Linked DNA regions of Homo sapiens. The protein of the gene in region 1 purifies or fractionates together with the protein of each later gene. This does not show direct contact. Each region holds a gene or a part of one and is shown in the gene's direction. Other genes may lie near its edges. The genes, in order: SLC15A1, ABCD1, BTAF1, MTX1, ACSL4, RAB3B and XPR1.

What was found.
Region 2: the proteins of SLC15A1 (region 1) and ABCD1 purify together in Homo sapiens (affinity purification with mass spectrometry; 2 studies listed by BioGRID and IntAct, with this or other methods). This does not show direct contact.
Region 3: the proteins of SLC15A1 (region 1) and BTAF1 purify together in Homo sapiens (affinity purification with mass spectrometry; 2 studies listed by BioGRID and IntAct, with this or other methods). This does not show direct contact.
Region 4: the proteins of SLC15A1 (region 1) and MTX1 purify together in Homo sapiens (affinity purification with mass spectrometry; 2 studies listed by BioGRID and IntAct, with this or other methods). This does not show direct contact.
Region 5: the proteins of SLC15A1 (region 1) and ACSL4 purify together in Homo sapiens (affinity purification with mass spectrometry; 2 studies listed by BioGRID and IntAct, with this or other methods). This does not show direct contact.
Region 6: the proteins of SLC15A1 (region 1) and RAB3B purify together in Homo sapiens (affinity purification with mass spectrometry; 2 studies listed by BioGRID and IntAct, with this or other methods). This does not show direct contact.
Region 7: the proteins of SLC15A1 (region 1) and XPR1 purify together in Homo sapiens (affinity purification with mass spectrometry; 2 studies listed by BioGRID and IntAct, with this or other methods). This does not show direct contact.

What each region holds. Positions count from the first base shown.
Region 1 is NC_000013.11:98,725,173-98,728,672, reverse strand, and holds part of SLC15A1 (solute carrier family 15 member 1), read left to right. Parts: intron 1-1,813; coding exon 1,814-1,830; intron 1,831-2,223; coding exon 2,224-2,305; intron 2,306-2,408; coding exon 2,409-2,550; intron 2,551-3,500. UniProt on the Homo sapiens protein: Electrogenic proton-coupled amino-acid transporter that transports oligopeptides of 2 to 4 amino acids with a preference for dipeptides. Transports neutral and monovalently charged peptides with a proton to peptide stoichiometry of 1:1 or 2:1.
Region 2 is NC_000023.11:153,734,856-153,738,355, forward strand, and holds part of ABCD1 (ATP-binding cassette sub-family D member 1), read left to right. Parts: exon of another isoform or gene 1-1,256; coding exon 1,257-1,399; exon of another isoform or gene 1,400-1,489; coding exon 1,490-1,658; exon of another isoform or gene 1,659-1,756; coding exon of another isoform or gene 1,757-2,056; exon of another isoform or gene 2,057-2,301; coding exon 2,302-2,396; exon of another isoform or gene 2,397-3,500. UniProt on the Homo sapiens protein: ATP-dependent transporter of the ATP-binding cassette (ABC) family involved in the transport of very long chain fatty acid (VLCFA)-CoA from the cytosol to the peroxisome lumen.
Region 3 is NC_000010.11:91,993,270-91,996,769, forward strand, and holds part of BTAF1 (TATA-binding protein-associated factor 172), read left to right. Parts: intron 1-424; coding exon 425-578; intron 579-1,265; coding exon 1,266-1,375; exon of another isoform or gene 1,376-1,388; intron 1,389-3,099; coding exon 3,100-3,301; intron 3,302-3,500. UniProt on the Homo sapiens protein: Regulates transcription in association with TATA binding protein (TBP). Removes TBP from the TATA box in an ATP-dependent manner.
Region 4 is NC_000001.11:155,211,695-155,214,323, forward strand, and holds the end of MTX1 (metaxin-1), read left to right. Parts: intron 1-432; coding exon 433-525; intron 526-690; coding exon 691-873; intron 874-999; coding exon 1,000-1,076; intron 1,077-1,542; coding exon 1,543-1,697; intron 1,698-1,789; coding exon 1,790-2,004; 3' UTR 2,005-2,129; downstream 2,130-2,629. UniProt on the Homo sapiens protein: Involved in transport of proteins into the mitochondrion. Essential for embryonic development.
Region 5 is NC_000023.11:109,681,258-109,684,757, reverse strand, and holds part of ACSL4 (long-chain-fatty-acid--CoA ligase 4), read left to right. Parts: intron 1-1,091; exon of another isoform or gene 1,092-1,271; coding exon of another isoform or gene 1,272-1,394; coding exon 1,395-1,622; intron 1,623-1,861; coding exon 1,862-2,039; intron 2,040-3,382; coding exon 3,383-3,492; intron 3,493-3,500. UniProt on the Homo sapiens protein: Catalyzes the conversion of long-chain fatty acids to their active form acyl-CoA for both synthesis of cellular lipids, and degradation via beta-oxidation. Preferentially activates arachidonate and eicosapentaenoate as substrates.
Region 6 is NC_000001.11:51,980,701-51,984,200, reverse strand, and holds part of RAB3B (ras-related protein Rab-3B), read left to right. Parts: intron 1-3,313; exon of another isoform or gene 3,314-3,500. UniProt on the Homo sapiens protein: The small GTPases Rab are key regulators of intracellular membrane trafficking, from the formation of transport vesicles to their fusion with membranes.
Region 7 is NC_000001.11:180,638,522-180,642,021, forward strand, and holds part of XPR1 (solute carrier family 53 member 1), read left to right. Parts: intron 1-3,500. UniProt on the Homo sapiens protein: Inorganic ion transporter that mediates phosphate ion export across plasma membrane.

The sequences.
Region 1 (3,500 bases):
TTGTTAACTGTAGTCACCGTGTTGTGCTACCAAACACCAGCTCTTATTCCTTCTACAGAACTGTGTTTTTGTATCCACTAACCTTGCTTCATCCTCCCACCTTCACCTACCCTTCCCATCCTCTGGTAACCACCATTCTACCCACTACTACCTCCATGAGATCAATTTTTTAGCTCCTACATATGAGTGAGAATATGTGATATCTATCTTTCTGTGCCTGGCTTATTTCACTTAACCTGATGTCCTCCAGTTTCATCTGTATTGCTGCAAATGACAAGATCCAACGACAACTTTCATAGAAATAGAAAAAAATCCTAAAATTCATATACAACAACAAAAGGCCTCGAAAAGCCAAAGTCATCCTGAGCAAAAAGAATAGGGCCAGAGGTACCACCTGATGTCAAAATATACTACAAAGCTGTAGTAACCAAATCAGCATGGAAACAGACACATAGACCAATGGAACAGAAAAGAGAACCCAGGAATAAATGCATCCATTTATAGCCAACTCATTTTTGACAAAGCTGCCAAGAACAAACACTGGGAAAAGAACAGTCTAAAGAATAATTTTCCAGTGTAGTGATTCCCAAAGCACACTGCCTGGACCAGTGGCAGCACCCACACCTGGGAGCTTGTTAGAAATGCAAGCTCAAGTGTCCATCTCAGGCCTACAGAATCAACAACTCCAGGAATGGGGCCCAGCCATCTGTTCTTGCAAGCCCTCTGGTGATTCTGAGGCACACTCCAGTGTGAGACCCACTGCTATGGGGTCACCGATTCCTAGATTCCTAATGGAGGTGGAGCATGTTCAGGGAGCCCTGGCAACAAAGAACTCTAATATAAGGAAATCGGGGTGAGTGAGGGGGAAGGGGATGGATGTCCTGTGGGAAACAGGGTAGTATGTGATAGACACGGATGAACACAGGGCAATGTGTTTGTGTAGGAGCAGAGTGAGGAGGTGTAAAGACTAGAGACAAGGGCACAGCTCAGCTCTTGCCAAAATTCCGGGGAGACAGAAGAGCAGGTGCTGACGGGATGGGGATGAGGCGCTCCTAGGATGCACATGGGAGAGTCCACTGGACTTGACGTGCACCAGCTCCCTTGTATTCTCAGGCTGTTTCTTCCTGCTCTTCTCATTCATTCTTGTGACATAACCCCCTACCAGTGGTAGGTATTGTACAGGACGTTGAAAGTGGGGATGTTGGTGTGATGGATGGCACATGATTCTTCTGCTTTCAGAACCTGGTCCAGAAGGGAAGCAAAAATATAAACTGCCCATCATTACAGTATGGTGATGTAGGCACATCAGAGATGATTTGGGAAGGGAATATCGGTGGCAAGACTTAAATCATGGGGTGAGCCTGGCAGGCAGGGCCCAAGCCATAGGAGGTGGCGGTTGAGTGTGCACAGTGTGTCAGGCACTCAGAAGCATTTTATATTACAGAAATTTCATCCCCACCAAAACACTTGTCAGATATTGAAGAACATGCTAGAATGTGTGGATTTTATCCCGATGGGCGGCCTTTGAAGTGTTTCAGGAGGAAATGGTTTAGGCCTGATTCTCTGAGCTGCTGCTTCTCAATTTTGACTGCATACGAGAATTGCCTGAGGAGCTTCTTAAAAGAAAATACAGATGCCAGGCCCCACCTCAGATAAGAAGCATGAGTCTGGGGCCGGGATCCCAGGGAGGGCTGGAGCTGTTTGGTGAATGGCCCCTCTGACCACCCTAAAAAGTCAGAGGCTCTGAGTTTAGACACAGCAAAAACTATTGTAATGGCTTGACTTTAATATTGGGATTCTGTTTTTCTTTTAGGAATGTCCAAATCACACGTGAGTACCCTTTTTCCTTCTCTACATATCTTCATCTTGTAAATTTTATCATCTGTTTTACCCCTAAGGGTTCATTCACCTAACAGATCTGTACATCTGGAACCAGTGAGGGTATGATCCCGGATTTCCATGTGAGATGTCCTCTCCTGAGGAAATGCTGTGGATAATCCTCCTCAGACTAACAATACCACTGGATGCTTTATTTCATTGCTGTCTCTATGTGGAAGGATTAGTGTAGGGAATAAAATGATTAAATGCTAGTTTCCTGCTCTAGACAGTCACCGGTAAGTTACTGAATCTGCGTTGGCTGCCTTTCATGCCACTGGTGCTCCTTTGTGGCTATGGACCAGTGGGGGGTGTATTTCAATCCTGTGCTTGTTTCTTTTTTGTCAGAGTTTCTTTGGTTATCCCCTGAGCATCTTCTTCATCGTGGTCAATGAGTTTTGCGAAAGATTTTCCTACTATGGAATGCGAGGTAACTGTATTGGCCGTTTCTCACCCTTCAGGGAAGAGCGGGAGTGGCCATAACCAGTCCTAACTTTGTTTCCCCCTCCTCTTCCACCTGCCCTCTGCAAAAGCAATCCTGATTCTGTACTTCACAAATTTCATCAGCTGGGATGATAACCTGTCCACCGCCATCTACCATACGTTTGTGGCTCTGTGCTACCTGACGCCAATTCTCGGAGCTCTTATCGCCGACTCGTGGCTGGGAAAGTTCAAGTGAGTGGCTGGAAATTTCTTGTTCACAAACAAGCGAAAAAGTAAATGTAGGTTTTGTAGTTGGGAATGGTGGAATCTGGGAATGATGAATCAAAGAACAGAAACTCTTAGGAGAGGCCAGGTGTGGTATGGTTCATACCTGTAATCCCAGCACTTTGAGAGGCTGAGGCAGGAGTTTGAAACCAGCCTGGGCAACATAGTGAGACCCATCTCTACCAAAAATAAAGAAATTAGCAAGGCATAGTGGCATACACCTGTGGCCCCAGCTAGCTGGGAGGCTGAGGTGGGAGGATCCGCTTGAGCCCCAGAGGTCAAGGCTGCAGTGAGCTGTGATCACATCACTGCACCCCAGCCTGGATGACAGAACAAGACCCTGTCTCAAAAACAAATTAAAAACAGAAACAAACCCTTAGGAGAGCATTTACAGCGCTGTTTCTGCTCAGTATCCTGTCCCTAGAGCCTGAAACAGTGCCTGACATTTAGTGACTGCAAGCAGCATCTATAGGTTTTTGTTTTTCCCTAATGCAAACAAATGTAGCATCTTTGTCACATCTTGACACAGTAGCAGGGATACTGTCTATTATTAGTGATGTGTGAGGCATGGAGTTAAGGTCTGGGGATATGAAGAAACTCTCTAAAATACCCCCTTGGCTGCTGAGGGGCTCACGCTGCTTGAGGTCACATGGTGTGAGGTCACTAAAGAGAGAAGTCACCCAGCCCTCCAGGAAGGGCTCCACGAGCACACCCAGTGGGATGTTGTCAGGAAAGTTTTCCTGGGACTTAATGAAGAAGGAAGTAGAGGCTCTTCCAGGCCAAAGGAATGACGTGGGCTGTCTTAGTCCACTTGTGTTGCTATAAAGGAATACCTGAGGCTGGGGAATTTATAAAGGAAAAAGGTATATTTGGTTGATGATTCTGCTGGCTGGAAGACCAAGCATCTGATGAAAGTC
Region 2 (3,500 bases), on another chromosome or scaffold:
TAACTCCAGAATGTTTTATTTTTATTTTATCCCCCAAAGAAACCCCAGACCCATGAACAGTCACTCCTCATTCCCTCTCTCCAGCCCCTGGCACCCACTCATCTGCTTCCTGTCTCTGTGGATTTGCCTATCTGGACATGTCCTAGAAATGGAATCATGTGCTCTGTGGCATTTTGTGACTAGCTTCCTTCACTGAGCATCATGGTTTCAAGATTCGTCCATGTCATAAGATGAATCAGTCCTTCATTCCTTTTCATGGCTGAATAATATTCCATTGTGTGCATAGACCACAATTTCTTTATCCATTCATCCCTTGATGGACATTTTGGGTTTCTTCATGTTTTGGCTATTGTGAATAACACTGCTGTGAACATCCATGGACAAGTCTCTATGTGTGCAGATATTTTCGTTTCTCCTGGGTGTGTAGCTAGGAGTAGAATTGCCAGGTCACATGGTAACTGGACGTTTCACTTTTTGAGGAGCTGCGAGACTGTTCTCCACAGTGGCTGCCCCATTTTACCTTCCCGCCAGCAGTGTTGGAGGGTTCCACCTTTTCATCGTGGCTAGCACTGGTTATCATCTCCTTTGTATTCTAGCCACCTAGTGGGTGTGAGGCAGTATCTCTTGGTGGTTTTGATTTGCATTTCCCTGATGACTAATGACGCTGAGCCTCTTTTGATGTGTTGAGTGGCCATTTGTATGTCTTCTTTGGAGAAATGTCTGTTCACGTCCTTCGCCCATGTGTGATCGGGTTATCTCTGTCGCTGAGTTGTAAAAGCTCTTTGTATATTCTGGATACTGCACCCTCATCAGATGTGTGGTTCACCAGTCCAGAGTTTTCTCCCAGTCTGTAGGTTGTCTTTTTCACTGTCTCGATATTGTCCTTTGGTGCACAAAAGTGTTGAGTTGAATGAGGTTCAGTTGATCTGTTTTTCTCTTGTTGCTCATGCTTTTGGTGTCCTAGTGAAGGAACTATTGCCATATCCAAGGTCGTGAAGTTTTATCCCATTTTCTTCTGAGAGTTTCATACTTTGGGCCACACTACACATCAGCCTGTGATGTGCTCTGGGTTGGTTTGTCTGTATGGTGTGAGGGGTCCCTCTCCTGCACATAGAGAGAAAGAGAGAGAGAGCTGGTTGCCCCGGCACCATTTGCAGAAGAGCCTCGCCTTTCTCTCCAGCGGCTCATTTTTGACTTTCCGCTGTCTCTGCCCTGCCCCTCCCCGCCCCGCCACCCACCCCTCTGGGGCTTTGCAGATGCAGAGGCCGTGAAGAAGGCAGCCTTGGAAAAGAAGGAGGAGGAGCTGGTGAGCGAGCGCACAGAAGCCTTCACTATTGCCCGCAACCTCCTGACAGCGGCTGCAGATGCCATTGAGCGGATCATGTCGTCGTACAAGGAGGTACCCCTGGCCCAGCCCCACCCTTGCCATCCTTGCCATGCTTCTCTCCCTGCAACTGGCAGGGGCTGAGCCAGGGTCACCCTCCCTCAGGTGACGGAGCTGGCTGGCTACACAGCCCGGGTGCACGAGATGTTCCAGGTATTTGAAGATGTTCAGCGCTGTCACTTCAAGAGGCCCAGGGAGCTAGAGGACGCTCAGGCGGGGTCTGGGACCATAGGCCGGTCTGGTGTCCGTGTGGAGGGCCCCCTGAAGATCCGAGGTAAGGCTGTCCCCTCCCTATGAGTGACCCCGCCCCTGCTGCTGCTGCAGGTGCTGACCTGCTGCCCCAGCTCCTCCTATTCCCGCTCCCTCACTCAGGGACCTCCATGTGCTTCTGGCCCATCCCAGTCCACCCAGGACGGGAGGGCTGCCGGGCAGGGTCTTTGAGGACTTCGGCCTGGTCGAGCTGGGCCCCTGGAGGGTTTCCTGCAGAGAGGTGCTGGTCCGCCCGCCTTCCTTCCCAGACAGTAGCTGCCGGCCACCGTACTGACTCGCCCTTTGAGGGCCTCAGCCTGGATTATTCATTCAAAACAAGGGGGATGTGGTCCCCTCACCCATGCAGGACAGCAAGAGAAAGTTCCAGTCAGTGTGCCAGCTGCTGGCTGCCACGGGAGGCAGGTGCTGCAGAAGGGAGTGGCGGCCCAGGGCACTGTATTAGACACTGGGGGAAGAGTTCAGCTTGTTGGAAGACCTGGCTGTGTTCCCTAGGGACCCTGGACCACAGGCTGCTGGTCAGGAACCAGCTGGCATGCTGCCAGGGATGGGAATGAGGGCGTGCAGCCAGGGGCACGCAGACTCCCCAGAATGCAGAGGGGTCGCCACCACTCCCTCTCCACCCCAGCCCCGCTGTGCTGTCTCTGCAGGCCAGGTGGTGGATGTGGAACAGGGGATCATCTGCGAGAACATCCCCATCGTCACGCCCTCAGGAGAGGTGGTGGTGGCCAGCCTCAACATCAGGGTAGGTCCAGCGGGGAGGGCGCCAGCCACGCACATATGCAAGCCTCAGCCCTTGGCTTCCCGCCTGTCTGTGCTGGCAACAGCCATTGTCCCTAGATGTACGTGGCAGGTGGGCCAAGGTCAAGGTGAGAGACCAACGTGTCTCTGACTGTTCATCCTGGGGCAACAGAGGCAGGGCTCATAAAAGAGACTAGTGATACCAGGATTGACCAAGGTTCACCCCGGCGTTCCTGGCCCTATCATCTGATGCCAACTCCCCACACTCCTAAGAAAGCCAAGACCCGGGTGGGGGGGCTCTGGTTCAAACCTTGCCGCTCGACCTCCCTCGGAAGGCCACAGCAAGGAATCCACAGATCACCTGTGTCCCCAGCCAGGGGTTTGGACAGGGCTGGGGAGTAATGGAGTGAGGGGGAGACTGGGGTGGAGGGACAGGTAGAGAAGTGACAAGGAATCACTCATTCATTCACTCATTTAACCAATGTGCCCTGAACTCTGAGCCGGGCACCAGAAACCCGAGGTAAATCAGGAGACCTGCACTCAGGGAGTCTTCACTGTGGAGGGGCACTAAAGTGTTACAAAGGGTCTCCAGGTAGACAGCTGTTCAAGGGACAGTGGGGGTCACAAGAAGAGTGGTCAGAGTCCCTGGGGGTGGTGGGGGTGGGATGAAGCCTTGCCCAGGAGTTGCTGTGAGCGAGTGGGCAGGCAGCTGAGGGTAGAGGAGTGAGGGGCCGTGGGCCTGAGGGGCAGGTCACGCAGGAGGAAGCAGAGAGGAGGGGCATGCCAGGGAGGAGGGGGCCGGCACAGGTGGTTACCCCTCACCGCTCGCAGCGGCCCCTCCTAGGATGTCGGGGGAGCTGATCACCAGTGAGTCCAAGGAAGGTGGTTTCCAGGCTGGCCCCGGGCAGCACAAGCAGGCAGGGGCAGCGGGCAAGCTCATGGGGCCCCTGCGCGCAGGGCCACATATGCTCAGGGAGCCGGGTATGCGAGATGGGGCAAGGCCCAGGCCCCACCCTTCAGGAGGGGACAGTCAGGTGGCTTCATTAGCATCCTGTGGCTGCGGTCACAAAGCGTTACAAACTTTGAGTGGCTTTCCCAGCAGAGATGG
Region 3 (3,500 bases), on another chromosome or scaffold:
TTAATCTTGGGGTTAGCTTAAACAGATGATCTTGTACTATCCCTTAAGTGAATGTAAATAAGGACACATCACTTCATCTATCTTCTCTCTAGCTGACAAGTTTCTTTGAGGTAGAGAGAAGGAGGAAAAAAAATGTCACTTAGGACTATCTCTAGAAACAGCACATATCCGTCTGTTCCTTATCCTCAACCCCAAAAAAGTGTTTTACTTTGGTCACAAAAATCTAGTTAGGTGTTGTAGGCCCCTGTAAATTTAATTATTGGGAAATGTTTATAATTGAGACAAACATGTCTAATAATTGCTTACTTGGTTAATGATAACATTATGAATTCTTAGATGGTGACTTTTAAATTCTTTTGTTAAAATTTTAAATGTATTATGATTTTTTCTGAAATTCTGTTTTTATCTAACATTTAATTTTAAGGCCCAGAAGCCTTACCTGGTACAACGGAGAGGAGCTGAATTTGCTTTGACAACTATAGTAAAGCATTTTGGTGGTGAAATGGCAGTGAAGTTGCCACATCTCTGGGATGCTATGGTTGGCCCATTGAGGAATACAATCGACATAAATAATTTTGGTATACACATATTTTTATGAGTCCAGTTTTTAACAAATTTTAATGTCTATTAATTGAATATATCCTTATAAAATAAAAATGCCTCTATGCCTCTACCTGTTTATTCCAGACCAGCTGGTAAGTTTTAAAATGGAAACTTGGTTTAAAAAAAACACACACCTTTATTTTATAAAAGAGATATTTGGGTTGGGCATGGTGGCTCATGCCTGTAATCCCAGCACTTTGGGAGGCCCAGGTGGGCAGATCACTTGAGGTCAGGAGTTTGAGACCAACCTGGCCAACATGGCAAAACCCCATCTCTAGCAAAAATACAAAAATTAGCTGGGCGTGTAGTCCCAGCTACTCTGGAGGCTGAGGCAGGAGGATTGCTTGAACCCTGGGGGTGGAGGTTGCAGTGAGCCGAGATTATGCCACTGCACTGCAGCCTGGATGACAGAGCGAGACTCTGTCTCAAAAAAAAAAAAAATTGTTTTTAAAGAGATACTTGAAATGGATCACTATGTTTAAGTTCTTTGGTTGCTCTACATGTAGTACCCCAGCACTTAAATTAAGGTCATGGCATTTAATTTTAACACTAAGAAGCAAAATTGACTCTCCTATGCTAGCTGAAAAAGTGCTAAAAGTTTTTGTGTGCTCTAGATTTTGAAAAATTATTTGCCAGATAATACAGACAATATATTTTAACAGATGGAAAATCCCTCCTGGATAAGGGAGATAGCCCTGCTCAAGAATTGGTGAATTCTCTGCAGGTTTTTGAAACAGCAGCAGCTTCAATGGATTCTGAGCTTCATCCCTTGGTAACTAACTAATGCAAGTGTAATATTTCTTCAAATAAAACAAGTGGTCTTATTAAAAAGTCTTAAGGTTTGAAAGGTACAGCTTTGATGTCATCCTTATTAATTGCATTTTTCTTTGCTGTGGTATAACTAGATTCCTCCTTTACTAACAGTGCAACTCCTGTGGGCTTTGATGTAGACCAGGCTGCTTGAATTTAATAGAAAACCCAACCTGGAAGCTTAGAATGTGGGGGCATTGAGGAAAGGACTCTGATGACACAGGAGCCAGATGTAAATAGGAAAGAAAACTGCAGCCCTGTTCATCCAGATGATCCTAATAATACAGCTCCAAGAAAGGAAAAGCATATATAATGAAATCTGTTTCCTAGATAAGTACAAAGGTGAAAGGAGTCACCTGCCTAAGGTGAAGCTGGTCAGTGGCAAAGATAGAACACTGGTTTGGGATTTTTTTAAAAAACTATTAAAATGTTTCTTACAAAAGAATTAGGACAGAGGGAGGAGGAAAATAGAGAATTATCTGGTTTTTTTCATAGAAGAATATTATTCTTTTCATATCTCTGCAATAGGAAGCTGTCTGCAATTTACCCCATTTTGAAGGGTATTAGCCCAGTTCTCTATTGTTATTTAACACAAAAGGGAGAATCTATGAGAGGGTGGAGAAGAATGGATTTTTTTTTTTGTACATAGTAATAAAGTATGTCCTTTTACTTGTTAAAAGTTTTGCTGATTTACTGTTAGTAAAGAAAAGTAGGCCGGGCGTGGTGGCTTACACCTGTAATCCCAGCACTTTGGGAGGCCGAGGTGGGTGAATCACGAGGTCAGGAGTTCAAGACCAGCCTGGCCAATATGGTGAAACCCCCATCTCTACTAAAAATACAAAAATTAGCCGGGCGTGATGGGACATGCCTGTAGTCCCAGGTACTTGGGAGGCTGAGGCAGGAGAATCACTGGAACCCGGGAGGCAGAGGTTGCAGTGAGCCAAGATCGCGCCACTGCACTCTAGCCTAGGCGACAGAGCGAGACTCAGTCTCAAAAAAAAAAAGAAGGAAAAAAAAAAGTAGAGTCCATCTGTACGCTCTTAATCTTCATAATTAGCAACATGCATTCAGCTGAACTGTAAGGCACATCAAACTGTTGAACAGATACCTGGCTCTCATCAGCATTAATTCTGGTGTTCCTTGTAGCAGACATTTAGTAAGGTGCTGTTGTGATGCTGTTGTGATTATAACACCTATGGTAAGCCAGGAAGCTACAGTGGACGATACCTACCAAAGTATGGTGCTAGAATAAAATCAGGAACACTCAAGCCACTGAATAAAAATTATGTACCTAAATCTAAATTAGTGCTACCAAATTTGGAGGGAGCTGGTGATGTGTGGTGCTGTTTTCCAGCTTCAGTAGGAGAATCTTGCCAAGTACTTTTTGGTTTGTTTCCTGTTAATTTTGGAAAGAATTGAGTGTTCCTATATGCCTAAGAGATGATATGAGCAGAGCAGAGGTTCTATACCTTTTTTTCCCTTCTTTTTGAAAGAGTTGTAATACATTAATTTGTATTTGGATTAGTTTTCTATTGAGAATGTTTTGGCAGTAATGTTTTGAAGTATTTGGAGATATTTTTAGAGTCACTTAGAATATTGAAAACTTTCCTGAGTATGGGCTATTATAGTTACATATTAAACAGTATTTCCTAATAATTCTAATTGCCATTAACTTTTTGTTTTTAGTTGGTCCAGCATTTGCCACATCTTTATATGTGCCTTCAATACCCCAGTACTGCAGTGAGGCACATGGCTGCTCGTTGTGTAGGTGTCATGAGCAAAATAGCTACCATGGAAACAATGAATATTTTTTTGGAGAAGGTTCTTCCGTGGCTGGGAGCAATTGATGACAGTGTCAAACAAGAGGGTGCAATTGAAGCACTTGCCTGTATCCTTTTTCATTTGACAAACTGTTCAGGAATTATATTCATTTCACTTAAGGATAATTAAAATGAAATTGATGTGTTCTAATATGCACATAAATAACCTGCCTTGTTCCAAAAAATACCTATTCTTTTTACATCTTATTTTGAAATATTTTTGTATTTTATTACAAATGTGTTACAAACTGATTTGCATTTTATGAT
Region 4 (2,629 bases), on another chromosome or scaffold:
GAGTGTGAGGATGGCTTTCTCTGGTTCCTGAGGCATGGACCGAGTCCTAGCCTGCATCTGAGCTCCGTTGTGCTAGCTTTGTGGTGTCTGGGTCGGGGAAGTTACTGTTAGAAAGTTGCCGTCAGCGGGCGTTGTTCCAGCTTTCCATGGAAATTCTGGGAGCTGCTCCTAGTTTGCGGCGGAGCCTTCCTTCCTTCCCTGCATTGGGCGCTGGACCTTCACGGCCAGGAGGCTCCAAGGCCCAGGCTTTTCGCCAACAGCAACAGGCTACTGGCTGGGCCCAGGCAAGGGGGCCTTGGCAGGAAAAGTTCCTTGCTGTACCTCCACTGCACTCAGAGGCCAGTGAGGGGGGTACCAGACAGGACTCCTTCCTCCCTGGTGAAGTGCCCTTGCAGCTCCCTAGTGTCCACGCCATGGATATTTCCTCCACAGAAGTACAATGCTGATTATGATCTGTCAGCTCGGCAAGGGGCAGACACCCTGGCCTTCATGTCTCTCCTGGAGGAGAAGTTGCTCCCGGTGCTGGTGAGTGTGCCCAGACCTCCCAGCATCCATGGCCAGCCGGGGAGGGTTCGGGAACACACAGACCCACACACAGGCTCAGGAAAGCATGGGGGTCAGAAGCCCACCTTGAATCAGACAGGTGCACTGGCTCAGACCTACCTGTTTCTTCCTGCCCACCCAATCCAGGTACATACTTTTTGGATAGACACCAAGAACTACGTGGAAGTGACCCGGAAGTGGTATGCAGAGGCTATGCCCTTTCCCCTCAACTTCTTCCTGCCTGGCCGCATGCAGCGGCAGTACATGGAACGGCTACAGCTGCTGACTGGGGAGCACAGGCCTGAGGACGAGGAAGAGCTGGAGAAGGAGGTAGCTCTGAGACCGGGGGCTATTGTATGAGATGAGCCCCAAGGATGCTGGCCAGGAATGGGAGTGCTTAGGTGGGGAGGTGGCACTGTTCCCACAGCTGCAAGCCTACCTGTGTCGCCCCTACAGCTGTACCGAGAGGCTCGGGAGTGTCTGACCCTGCTCTCTCAGCGCCTGGGCTCTCAAAAGTTCTTCTTTGGAGATGCGTGAGTCTGACTCCAAGAGGGTAATGGGTGGCTTGGAAGAAGATACAGGTTCAGATGGAGCAGCTGGAGCTGGGGCTGGGGCTGGGGCTGGCTCAGGCTCTGGATAGGAGGTCCCTGGGATAGAAACTGGCCCTAGTGACAGTGTGACTGTGTGGGGGCCAGAGCCTTCTCAGAGGTACAAAAGGGTAGGGTGGGAGGGCAGCCAGGCACAGGAGGGGCCTGAAGAGCTGTGGGGCACTGAATGTGCCCTTTATGCAGCCCTGGGATAGAGCCCTATTCAGGGCCAGGCTGGCGCCACCTGGGGATCTCTCCCCATACCAGGTCTAGAACTGTGTGTCCTGTCCTTCCCTGGTGGCCGCCTGCTGCCCAGAGCCCACCTCCCAAGGCTGACTCTTCCTCCAGCTCCATCTTTACCCCTTCTACCCCAGTGGTTCTCCTCCATCCCACCCTTCTCTCTCTGCTCCAGCCCTGCCTCCTTGGACGCCTTCGTCTTCAGCTACTTGGCCCTGCTGCTGCAGGCAAAGCTGCCCAGTGGGAAGCTGCAGGTCCACCTGCGTGGGCTGCACAACCTCTGTGCCTATTGTACCCACATTCTCAGTCTCTACTTCCCCTGGGATGGAGGTAAGGGGCAGATGGGAGGGGCAGCCCTGGGGAGAGTGGGCAGGGATCCAAGAACTAGTTCTCCTAACACACCTTCCTTCCTTGACCCTCAGCTGAGGTACCACCGCAACGCCAGACACCAGCAGGCCCAGAGACTGAGGAGGAGCCATACCGGCGCCGGAACCAGATCCTATCTGTGCTGGCAGGACTGGCAGCCATGGTGGGCTACGCCTTGCTCAGCGGCATTGTCTCCATCCAGCGGGCAACGCCTGCTCGGGCCCCAGGCACCCGGACCCTGGGCATGGCTGAGGAGGATGAAGAGGAATGATTTGTCCTCACGCTCCCAAGACTGGTTTTTCTACTCTCATGCATTCCAGAGGCCCCCGTGCCTCCTCGTTGTTGGTACAGCCGGACACGGGGTGCTGCCACCCAGAATAAAGCCACTCACACTGACTGGGCTCAAACATTTTCTCCTTTAAGAGCTGCCATTTTTCCTGGCTGGTGCCATAGGAATCATCTGGGTGCCTGGGCACACCCGCTGCTGCTTTAAGGCTTCCGCCCTGATGCTGACACTGCTGCTCCACGGGCCCAGTTCTGCATCTCCAGGAAAGACAAACAGTCTCCAGTTTTGGGCCCAGCTTTCCTAGTCTCTTCTTTTCCTTACCCTCAGCCCTGATCTTGTGTTTGTACGGACAGTGAGCTCACCCTAGGCCTGGACCCAGGCCCAGTTTCCAAAGCAAGCAGCACACAGCGCATGTTCACATAAGCATGGGGGCTGGGGGGACACTGGGGCTTACTGATCTTTTTCTAGGGGCCTCCAGCCCCTGGCACCACCTAGAGGGGAAAGTGAGTCACCCAAACCATTGCCCCTGGGCTTACGTCGCTGTAAGCTCACACTGGCCCTGCTGTGCCCTCTTTAGTCACAGACAGCGTGTGAGCTGACTCTGTCCCTT
Region 5 (3,500 bases), on another chromosome or scaffold:
TAAGGTCCAGCTTAAATCTAATCTCCACAAAGCCTCTCCTAGTTACTCTTGGCCATTTTGCACTTCCTCTGAACTCCTTTTGCATTTATTGCTTATACTACTGCCTACACTGCACATGGTAGTTATGTATTAGTTATGTATTACCACAAGGCTTTTCAGTGGAAATGCTTTAGTGGTCACCTTGGGAGTTGGGATTCCGGGAATTCTGGGGCAGGACTCTGGACATCCCCAAACCCTGTTTTGGCCAGAGCAACTCCACTTTAGTGTTATATATGGGCAGTTTCCAGTAGTGTTTATTAGAAGAGATGGTTTAATTGCACCCCCTGTCCCCGTTCCCCCAAACAGTTGCAAAAATACTGGATCTATCTTGTGTGATAGTTGACTCATAAGTGTTAACTTATAATGGCCAAGGGCCAGGAATTAATACTACTTCAGACTTGTATTACCACTCCTAGGCAACTGGTGCAGTTTTGAGCACAAAGTGGACATGTAGGAAATGATTTTACAATTGTATTGCTCCCATGTGGGAAATAGTAGATAGTAAATAGCATTACCTGAGAAATTTACCTTAATGAAGAACTCAGAATAAGGTTTCTGGGTTGACCTTTGAGAAATAAATCTAAGTTGATAGTTTCTGCCCCACCCCCCCCTTTGGATATAAACCTAACACTATTTAAAGATGTCTAGTTTACATGCACATGTTTAAGAGAAATCTTATTATTGGCATACCCTATTCTACCAAAGTTTTGACAAACTTAAATATCATATTCATGCATTTGTGTAAGCATTAAGGTTGTTATTCAACTCACAGAATGATATGCAGAGTACCAGTACACCTAGAAACCTAGAAAAAAATAAATTCAGAAGTTGATGTGCTCAAAGACATTTACGTCAATAATGATTACAAATGGAAAATGCCAGCCTTTCAGACCAGTTATTTCAGCTTTCTGTAATTAATTGTGTAAACTAATAAAGACCTGAGTATTTAAATCAATTGTGCTATCAACTTGTTAATATTCTTTTGTTTTTGTTTTTTGTTTTTTGTTTTTATTTTTCCTGCTCTCTGCTTGGTTCATTGTCATCACCTACAGGCGTACTTTATTGTCGGCTTCCAAAGATTACTAACTTTTATCTGTATCACTAAGATTGAACTGCCTTGGCTGTACTGCTATTCTTACTGCTGCTTCTATTATTGCCTTCTTCAGCACAATAAGGCTTTCAAAAGCCAAAGAATAACAAGAAATAAGCACCATTTTAGAAGCCTTTCCACTATGAAACTTAAGCTAAATGTGCTCACCATTATTTTGCTGCCTGTCCACTTGTTAATAACAATATACAGTGCCCTTATATTTATTCCATGGTATTTTCTTACCAATGCCAAGAAGAAAAACGCTATGGCAAAGAGAATAAAAGCTAAGCCCACTTCAGACAAACCTGGAAGTCCATATCGCTCTGTCACACACTTCGACTCACTAGCTGTAATAGACATCCCTGGAGCAGATACTCTGGATAAATTATTTGACCATGCTGTATCCAAGTTTGGGAAGAAGGACAGCCTTGGGACCAGGGAAATCCTAAGTGAAGAAAATGAAATGCAGCCAAATGGAAAAGTTTTTAAGAAGGTAAAGTATTTTGGTGCTTTTCATTTATGTTTTAAAGAGGAAGACACATTTGTTTTATCATAAATCGAGTGCGTTTTAAGTATGCTGGCATTCTATTATAGTGCTGTGTAAAACTACTCAGAAGCCGCTCATAGCTTCTGTATGTTCATTTAAGAGCATTTTTAGAGTTTTATGCTTTGGATAGTATTTTAATTGCTTGTTTGAATATACTAATATTAGAGAATGTATCACTTTAACAGTTAATTCTTGGGAATTATAAATGGATGAACTATCTTGAAGTGAATCGCAGAGTGAATAACTTTGGTAGTGGACTCACTGCACTGGGACTAAAACCAAAGAACACCATTGCCATCTTCTGTGAGACCAGGGCCGAATGGATGATTGCAGCACAGACCTGCTTTAAGTACAACTTTCCTCGTAAGTGCCTTGTGTTTTTGGAGGGGGGAGAGGAGGGTCTTTGCTTGCATGTGAGAATTGTTTTGAGATGCTCTTGTTTTCACAGTAGGTGTTGTTTAGCCATTTTACACATTAATTATGTCCATAATACGGCATGTAATATTGTGGCTAAAAGATATCCGATGACTCCTGTTAAGTATGGTAACTTGTAAGAACTAATATGGGAATTGGCAGCTTTAAGGGATGTGATTTACACTTTTATTTTCCAATTGGAAATGAATTGTAACTGAAAGAGTTGGAGTTTGGGGGTATTTTGGGGGGGTGATATACAAAGAGTAATGATTAAAAGAACAAAAAACCATTTCTCAGGATAATTCAAATTCATTGCTTCACTTTGAGACCTCTTATTTGACTTATTCTATTTTACGTGTGAAATATGCATGTGACAGCTGGAATTGGCATTAGATATGTTAGAAAGTAAAATTGAGTATATTTCTAATACTCAAGCATTTGTTGTTGCCATTGTTTAAGAAATAAACAATGTATTGTCACATACTAAGTACTCTGTTGTTTGTTGAATGAAATATAACACTGTAAGTTAGGATTATAGAGCTTAAATTTCAAACAAAAAATAGATAATATGAAAATGATCCCCTATGTACCCATTACCCACTTTCAACGATGAACAGCTTGTGAAAGTGGCTATTTTTAACCACATTGTTTCTGGTTACCAATCTAGAGCTGAATTTTCAGTTCTTTCTAAGTTTAGCAGATGTCCTTTGATTCTAACTGATCTTGGTTTATGTTATCTCTGGTGGCTCCTAAGGAGTAGATCTCCTTGATCTCTCTAATTAAGGTGTGGAGGTCACCAATCACATTGGACATTGGACTCACTAAAACAGCTTCTTAGAAGGAGTAAGAACATTATCTGTGGCTGATCTTATGACTTAAGATCCTCAAGATTTTCAAGGACTTATCCATTCTTTGGAGGCTATGGCCAATGAAAGTGTGTATCAAGAAGAAGCCCTAGCTGGGCCAGTCTGACCTGAATTAAGAGTTCAGCCAGTACCTATTGGCCTTGAGCATCTAAATTGACAGATTTTTGATCAGCTGTGGCAGTGCGAGTGTTTCTGGGTTTCTTCAGGTTTAGGAAGTGAGAGTTCTGGGAATTTGTAAGGAAAACTTTGGGCTCCCAGGGAGTTTGAAGCAAGGTTGAAGGATGGTAACAGAGACTATGAAATCAAATTAAAATATACAATGTCTTTGTGTCTCTAAGTGTAACTATTATTAAAGACTGACTTCAATAATATCCATTTCTAATAGATGTTTATTACTTAATATTTGTGTTTATTTTTATTATGTAGTTGTGACTTTATATGCCACACTTGGCAAAGAAGCAGTAGTTCATGGGCTAAATGAATCTGAGGCTTCCTATCTGATTACCAGTGTTGAACTTCTGGAAAGTAAACTTAAGGTAAATAT
Region 6 (3,500 bases), on another chromosome or scaffold:
CCTCCGCCTGCCAGGTTCAAGTGATTCTCCTGCCTCAGCCTCCAGAGTAGCTGGGATTACAGGCAGCCACCACCACGCCCAGCGAATTTTTTGTATTTTTAGTAGAGATGGGGTTTCACCATGTTGGCCAGACTGGTCTCGAACTCCTGACCTCGTGATTCACCCGCCTCAGCCTCCCAAAGTGCTGGGATTACAGGCATGAGCCACCGCGCCCAGCCCTTACTTTCTTTTCTTTTTTTTTGAGACAGTGTCTTGCTCTGTCACCCAGACTGGAGTGTAGTTGTGCAATCTTGACTCACTGCAGCCTCCGCCTCCTGGGTTCAAGCAATTTTTGTGCTTCAGCCTCCTGACTAGCTGGAATTACAGGTGTGCGCCACCACACCTGGCTAATTTTTATATTTTTAGTAGAGACTGGATTTCACCATGTTGGCCAGGCTGATCTTAAACTCCTGAGCTCAAATGATCCGCCTGCCTCGGCCTCACAAAGTCCTGGGATTATGGGCCTGAGCCACGGCACCTGGCCTCAAAATCTCATATTTTTGTAGTACTTTTGGTACTACTAAATTTTTGTAGTATTTAAGTACAGTCTTGCATTGCTAATGACAAGGATATGTTCTGAGGGATGTGTCATTAGCCGATTTCATAGTTGTATGAACATCATAGAGTATACTTACACAAACCTATATGGTATATGGTATAGCTTACTATACACATAGTCTATATGGAATAGATAGCCTATTGCTCCTAGGCTGCAAACCTGTACAGCATGTTACTGTATTGAATGTAGCAGGCAATTGTAACACAGTGGTAAGTATTTGTGTAGCTAAACACATCTAAACATAGAAAAGGTACAGTAAAAATATGATGGTTTTTTTTTTTGAGACCAAGTCTGGCTCTATCACCCAAGCTGGAATGCAGTGGTGCAATCTCAGCTCACTGCAACCTCAGCCTCCCGAGTAGCTGGGATTACAGGTATCTGCCACCATGCCTGGCTAATTTTTTGTATTTTAATAGGGATGGAGTTTCATCATGTTGGCCAGGCTGGTCTCTATCTCCTGACCTCAAGTGATCCACCCACCTTGGCCTCCCAAAGTGCTGGGATTACAGGTGTGAGCCACTGCACCCAGGCATAATATGGTATAAGAGATAAAAAATGGTACACCTATATAAGACACTTAACCATGAATGGAGCTTGCAGGGCCGGCAGTTGCTCTGGGGGAGTCAGTGAGTGAGTGGTGAGTGAATGTGAAGGCCTAGGACATTACCATACACTATAGGAGACTTTATAAACACTCTACACTTAGGCTACACTAAATTTATTTAAAAATATGTTTCTCCAATAATAAATTAACTTTGGCTTACTATAACTTTTAAACCTTATAAACTTAAAAAATTTTTAAAACTTCTTAGACTCTTTTATTTTTTATTTATTATTATTATTATTATTTTTTTGAGATTGAGTCTTGCTCTGTCACCCAGGCTGGAGTGCAGTGGATCTCTGCTCACTGCAACCTCCACCTCCCGAGTTCAAGCAATTCTTGTGCCTCAGCCTCCTGAGTAGCTGGGATTACAGGTGCGCACCACCACGCCTGGCTAATTTTTGTATTTTTAGTAGAGATGAGGTTTCACCATGTTGGCTAGGCTGGTCTTGAACTCCTGACCTTAAGTGATCTGCCTGCCTCGGCCTCCCAAAGTCTGGGGTTACAGGTCTGAGCCACCATGCCCAGCCATAGACTCTTTTATAACAACACTTAACTTAAAGCACAAATACACCGTATGGCCTTTTTTGAGATGAAGGCTCAGTGTGTCACCTGGATTGGAATGCAGTGGTGCAATCATGGGTCACTGCAGCCTCAAACTCCTTGGCTTGAGCGATCCTCCCACCTTGGCCTCCCAAAGTGTTGGGATTATAGGTATGAGCCACTGAACCTGGCCTTTTCTTTCTTTTCTTCCTTAGTTTTTAAATTTATGTTTAAAATTATTTTGTTAAAAAGGAAGACACAAATACACACACCTGAGCTTAGGCCTACACAGGGTCCAGGAGCATCAATATCACTGCCTTCCATTTCCATGTCTTGTCCCACTGGAAGGTCTTCAGGGGCAATAATAGGCATGGAGCTGTCATCTCTTATGGCAATATCTTCTTCTGGAATACCTCCTGAAGGACCTGCCTGAGGCTGTTTTACTGTTAACTTTTTAAAAAATATTAAATATAAATAGAAAAAGTACACTCTAAAATAACAATAAAAAGTGTAGTAAGTAAATACAGAAGCCAGTAACATAGTCATTTATTATCAATATCAAGTATTATGTATAGCACATAATCATATGTGCTATACTTTTATACAACTGGCAATGCAGTAGGTTTGTTTACACCAGCATCAACACAAATATGTGAGTAATGTGTTGTGCTACAATGTTACCATGGCTACTATGTCACTAGGCAATAGGAATTTTTCAGCTCCATTATAATCTTATGGGACCGCCATTGTACATGTGGTCTGTCATTGACTGAAATGTTGTTATGCAGTTCATGATTGTACTTTTAAAATTTAAGTGATTTGCTAAATGATAACATACCATATATTCTAGCCTATACCTTGTACATATGATGTCAGCTATTACAATATGCATAGAAGGTATAGACTAGAATGCATGGTATGTTATTTATATAGAAATAAAAAGTATAAATAGGTCTCTTTGCTTATATATGCAAGGGCTATCTCTGAAGGATATATAAATTGATAACATGTATGCCTCTGGGGAGGGGAACTGGATCAGGAATCAGAGATGGAAGCAAGACTTACTTTTCAGTGTAAACCTTTAGGTTTCATATTACTTGTATTTTATGCTAGGAATTAAGAAAATAATGCAGCTGGGTGTGGTGGCTCTCGCCTGTAATTCTAGCACTTTGGGAGGCCACGGAGGGCAGATCACTTGATCCCGGTTTAAGACCAGCCTGGACAGCATGGTGAAACCCCATCTCTACAAAAAGTACAAAAATTAGCTGAGCATGGTGGCACATGCCTGTAGTCCCAGCTACTCGGGAGGCTGAGGTAAGAGGATTGCTTGAGCCCAGGAGATCAAGACTGTAGTGAGCCAAGATAGTGCCATTGCACTCCAGCCTGGGCGACAGAGAGAGACCCTGTCTCAAAATAAAATAAAATAAAATAAAAATAATAATAATTGAGCTACAGCTGGTAAAAAAGGTAATACTTGCAAATAGGATATGCTTGAATTATTTTCCGTAAGTATGTATTACCTTTTAAATTAACAAATAAAACATAGTATTAAAATAGATGGCTTTTTTTTAAAGTACAATTTCCATTTTATTTTTCTCCAGGAAATAGTCCATCTTCAGTCTTTAAGGACTCAGCTCCTTACATGGGCTTTGGTGGGGGTCGTGGGGCAGCACCTACAGGTCTAAATCAGGGTGGGGGTGTTTGGTCCTTGCGGGCTTCATGAGATCGATTCCTGACTACTTTGCTGTGAATTGCACA
Region 7 (3,500 bases), on another chromosome or scaffold:
GCCAGCAGAGAAAGCTCATGAACAAATACCTTACAAATCATTCGTTCATTCCACAAATTTATAGAAGTCTTCCTTTGCTATAGGCTGATTTGTCATTAAATGCTAGCTTTCAGTACCTTAAAAATAACAGAAAAAAACCAAAACACACACACCCCAAATTTGTGTGTATGTGTGTATTTGGTTTTGTATTTCAGTCAACATAGTATTTTTAAAATTAAAAAGTGGTGTAGAAAGGGAAGACTGAAGATTGAGGACTTGGAACATGGATATAAATTTGTATTACTTTTGTATAAATTTGTATTACTTTTGTAATACAAATAAATCTTGTACTACTTTATACTTCTGTATAAATTTGGATTACTTTTGTAACTTAAGTTATATTCCTTTAAAGTCTTAGTTGTTTACTCAGACTGATATTTAGTCACCTATTTCTTCCCATCACCAAGCAAGTGTGGTATGTATAGGGACTGATCAGAAAATGTTTTAAAAATTAGGCTGGGCATGGTGGCTCACACCTGTAATCCCAGTACTTTGGGAGGCCAAGGCAGGCAGATCGCCTGAGATCAGGAGTTCGAGACCAGCCTGGCCAACATGGTGAAACCCCATTTCTACTAAAAATACAAAAATTAGCTGGGTGTGGTGGCGTGTGCCTGCTACTTGGGAGGCTGAGGCACAAGACTTGCTTGAACCCAGGAGGCGGAGGTTGCAGTGAGCTGAGATAGCACCACTGCACTCCAGCCTGGGTGACAGAGTGAGACACTGTCTGAAAAAAAAAAACACCCTTTAAAAATTGTTTATTTGCTAGGGAGTCAAAGGAAAATATAATTAATCTACTGTAAACATAACTTAAAATTTTCATAATCTCTATAACAAGAGGCTTAATATATTGATTAAGAAAACATAGTCATCTTTTATTAATTGAGGATGACCTGCTGTATTAGAAAGACCTTGGACCAGAAACCAGATATAAATCCTAAAATCCAGTTCTATCATTGACTATTCGTAAATAACTAGTGAACAAGTGATTTTTTTCAAGGACTGAAATTTAATCATAGAGAAAAGTGAGAAGTTTTTAGGTTATTTTTATGTGAGTTACTTATCTAGGCTAAATTTGTTAAAGTCGTAATTCATAGGGTAATCCATGTGCTTTGTGGGCTTTTTTTATACCTTAGAGTAGTGGCTCTCAAACTTTTTGGTTTCAGGACCACTTGAAACTCTTAACAGTTATTGAGGATTCCAGTGTACATCGATACATATACTGTATTAGAAGTTTGAAGATAGCCTGAAAAAAGGTTCTCTAGTCTTATCAAACATGGAAGAGGATAAAGGAGTTCCCTGGGTGAGGAGTGTCTGGTATCTGCCCTACAGCAAGGACAATAGAGAAAAGAAAGTTGGCTTCCCTGGATCTCATGTGATCCCTAATTCTACTCTCCTTTCTTTAAATTGAATTAGCAGAAGTGTGGTAAGCTTGTCATTAAGGAGAAAGGAATTAACATTTATTGAGCAGTTAGGAACCAGGTGTCAGCTGTTTTACATATGTTATCTCAATGTTCACAGTAGTTTTGTAAGATAGATGATTTATTATCTCCATTTTACTGATGAGGAAACCCAGGCTTAGAGAGATCAGTAATTTGCTTAAGGCTCTATACTTAGTAAGTAAATGGAACCAGAATTTGAAATTAAATCAAATCAGACTGTGGAGCTGTTGCTTTTATATGGAAATTGTAAATAACAGCAGTGGTGGTAGTAGTGGCAATAACAGCAGCTGTTATTTTTTGAGCGCTTACTGTATCAGGCACTGTGGTAAGTTCTTTAAAAACACCTCTTATAGCGTAGGTTGTTAGCTCCGTTTCTAGATGGTGGAGACTGAATCTCGGAGCCATTAGGTAACTGATTATGTTGATAGTAATTGTGGATAGCTAATTGTGGAGATTGTAAGAGCCCATGCTCTTAATTTCTATGGCGTACTGTTTTATGAAAAATGAATAAATCCATCCACTTAAACATGCATACATTTAGGCCTGGTCTGACCTGTTCTTAGGCACCGCTGACCTTTCTACAGCCCAGTGAAGTAATGGCGGGTCTATTTTTAGTCCCAGGTCTTAGTCTGCATAGTTTGGAGATAGTAGAGTGTGGTCTGTAGGATAGTGTTCACCTCTGTTAAATTATATTTCCCTCAAGGTTATCAGTGTAACTATTACTGGACAGCCAGCTGGTAAATAAAGGAACTTACGAAGATAAATCAGAAGAAAAAGGTAAGGAGATAAGGTGATAAGGGTAAAAAGAGGAGGACAAAAGTGGACAGCTGTTTGCTGTGCTACAGTTTTGGTGTTTGGCTTCTGGATCATAAATCATGGAATGTTAGACTTGTAAGGAACTTTTAAGCTTATTTAGCTCAACTTCCTTTTTTACCCAAATGGGAAAAGAGGTTAAGTGATTCAGGTTATATGGTTTTGTTTGTAGCTGAGTTAACACAATCACCCTGATTCATTTTATTGCTCATTAGTTTATATAATATGCTAGTATATTAATAACACATAGAAAAAAACTCTGAAGCCAGTCTACCTAAGTTTATATTCCAGCTCCACCAACATACTAGTTGAGTGACTTCAGGCAAGTCAGTTAACCTTTTTGTGCTTCAGTTTCCTCATCTGTAAAACAGGGATAATAATAGTACTTACAGGATTGTTGTGAGGATTAAATGAGTTAAAAATATGAAAAGTGTTTAGAACAATACCTGGCACATAGTAACAGCAATAAATTTCCTATTAAAATTATTTCTTCTGCAGAGCTCAACAATACTAAATAATGTTTGGCTAATATTATTTTTGACTGGGAAAGTGAGACTCAAAGCTTGTTCCTCCAGGTTTGTCCAGTTTAGGTTTTCATGGAAAATGGCTTTGTTGATTTTTTGCTAATATTTTTCTTAATAAATCACTCTTAACCTTTTTGTACAGAGTAAGAAAACCAGGTGAGAACAATTATGTGGCTGTGAGGTAAGTTAGTTCTCTTGTAACTTGTGTTCATCTCAGTTATAGACTGTGTCTGTATATTTGTTTTTAGAATTGAGGTGAAATTTGCATGTGTTATTAAGTATGTCTGAATGGCTTAAGTGAGTTGCTTGAGTTTTTAGTGGGTATCTGATTTTAGTTCTTTTCAATTTTCTAGTGAAAATTTAATTTTTAATCTTTTTTAGAGTTGAAAGAGACCTTCTCAACCCCTCTGTTTTACAAATGAATAAATTGAGAGCAGAGATGCCAAGATACCTGGTCAGAGTCTCATGACTAGCTAATAGCAGAGCCTGATATAAGAATATTGGCCTTCTGCTTACTGCTGTATCTTGTTAAGGCTTATCATTGCTGTATAAACATTGCTTTGAAATTTTAAGAATGAAGTTTCTTTGTAAGAGTCAGTAGGGATTTAAATGTTCTTGTTAATGATTACTCAGATACTCTGCATTAATACATTTATCTGTATCTAATCCATTAGATTCCATTAAC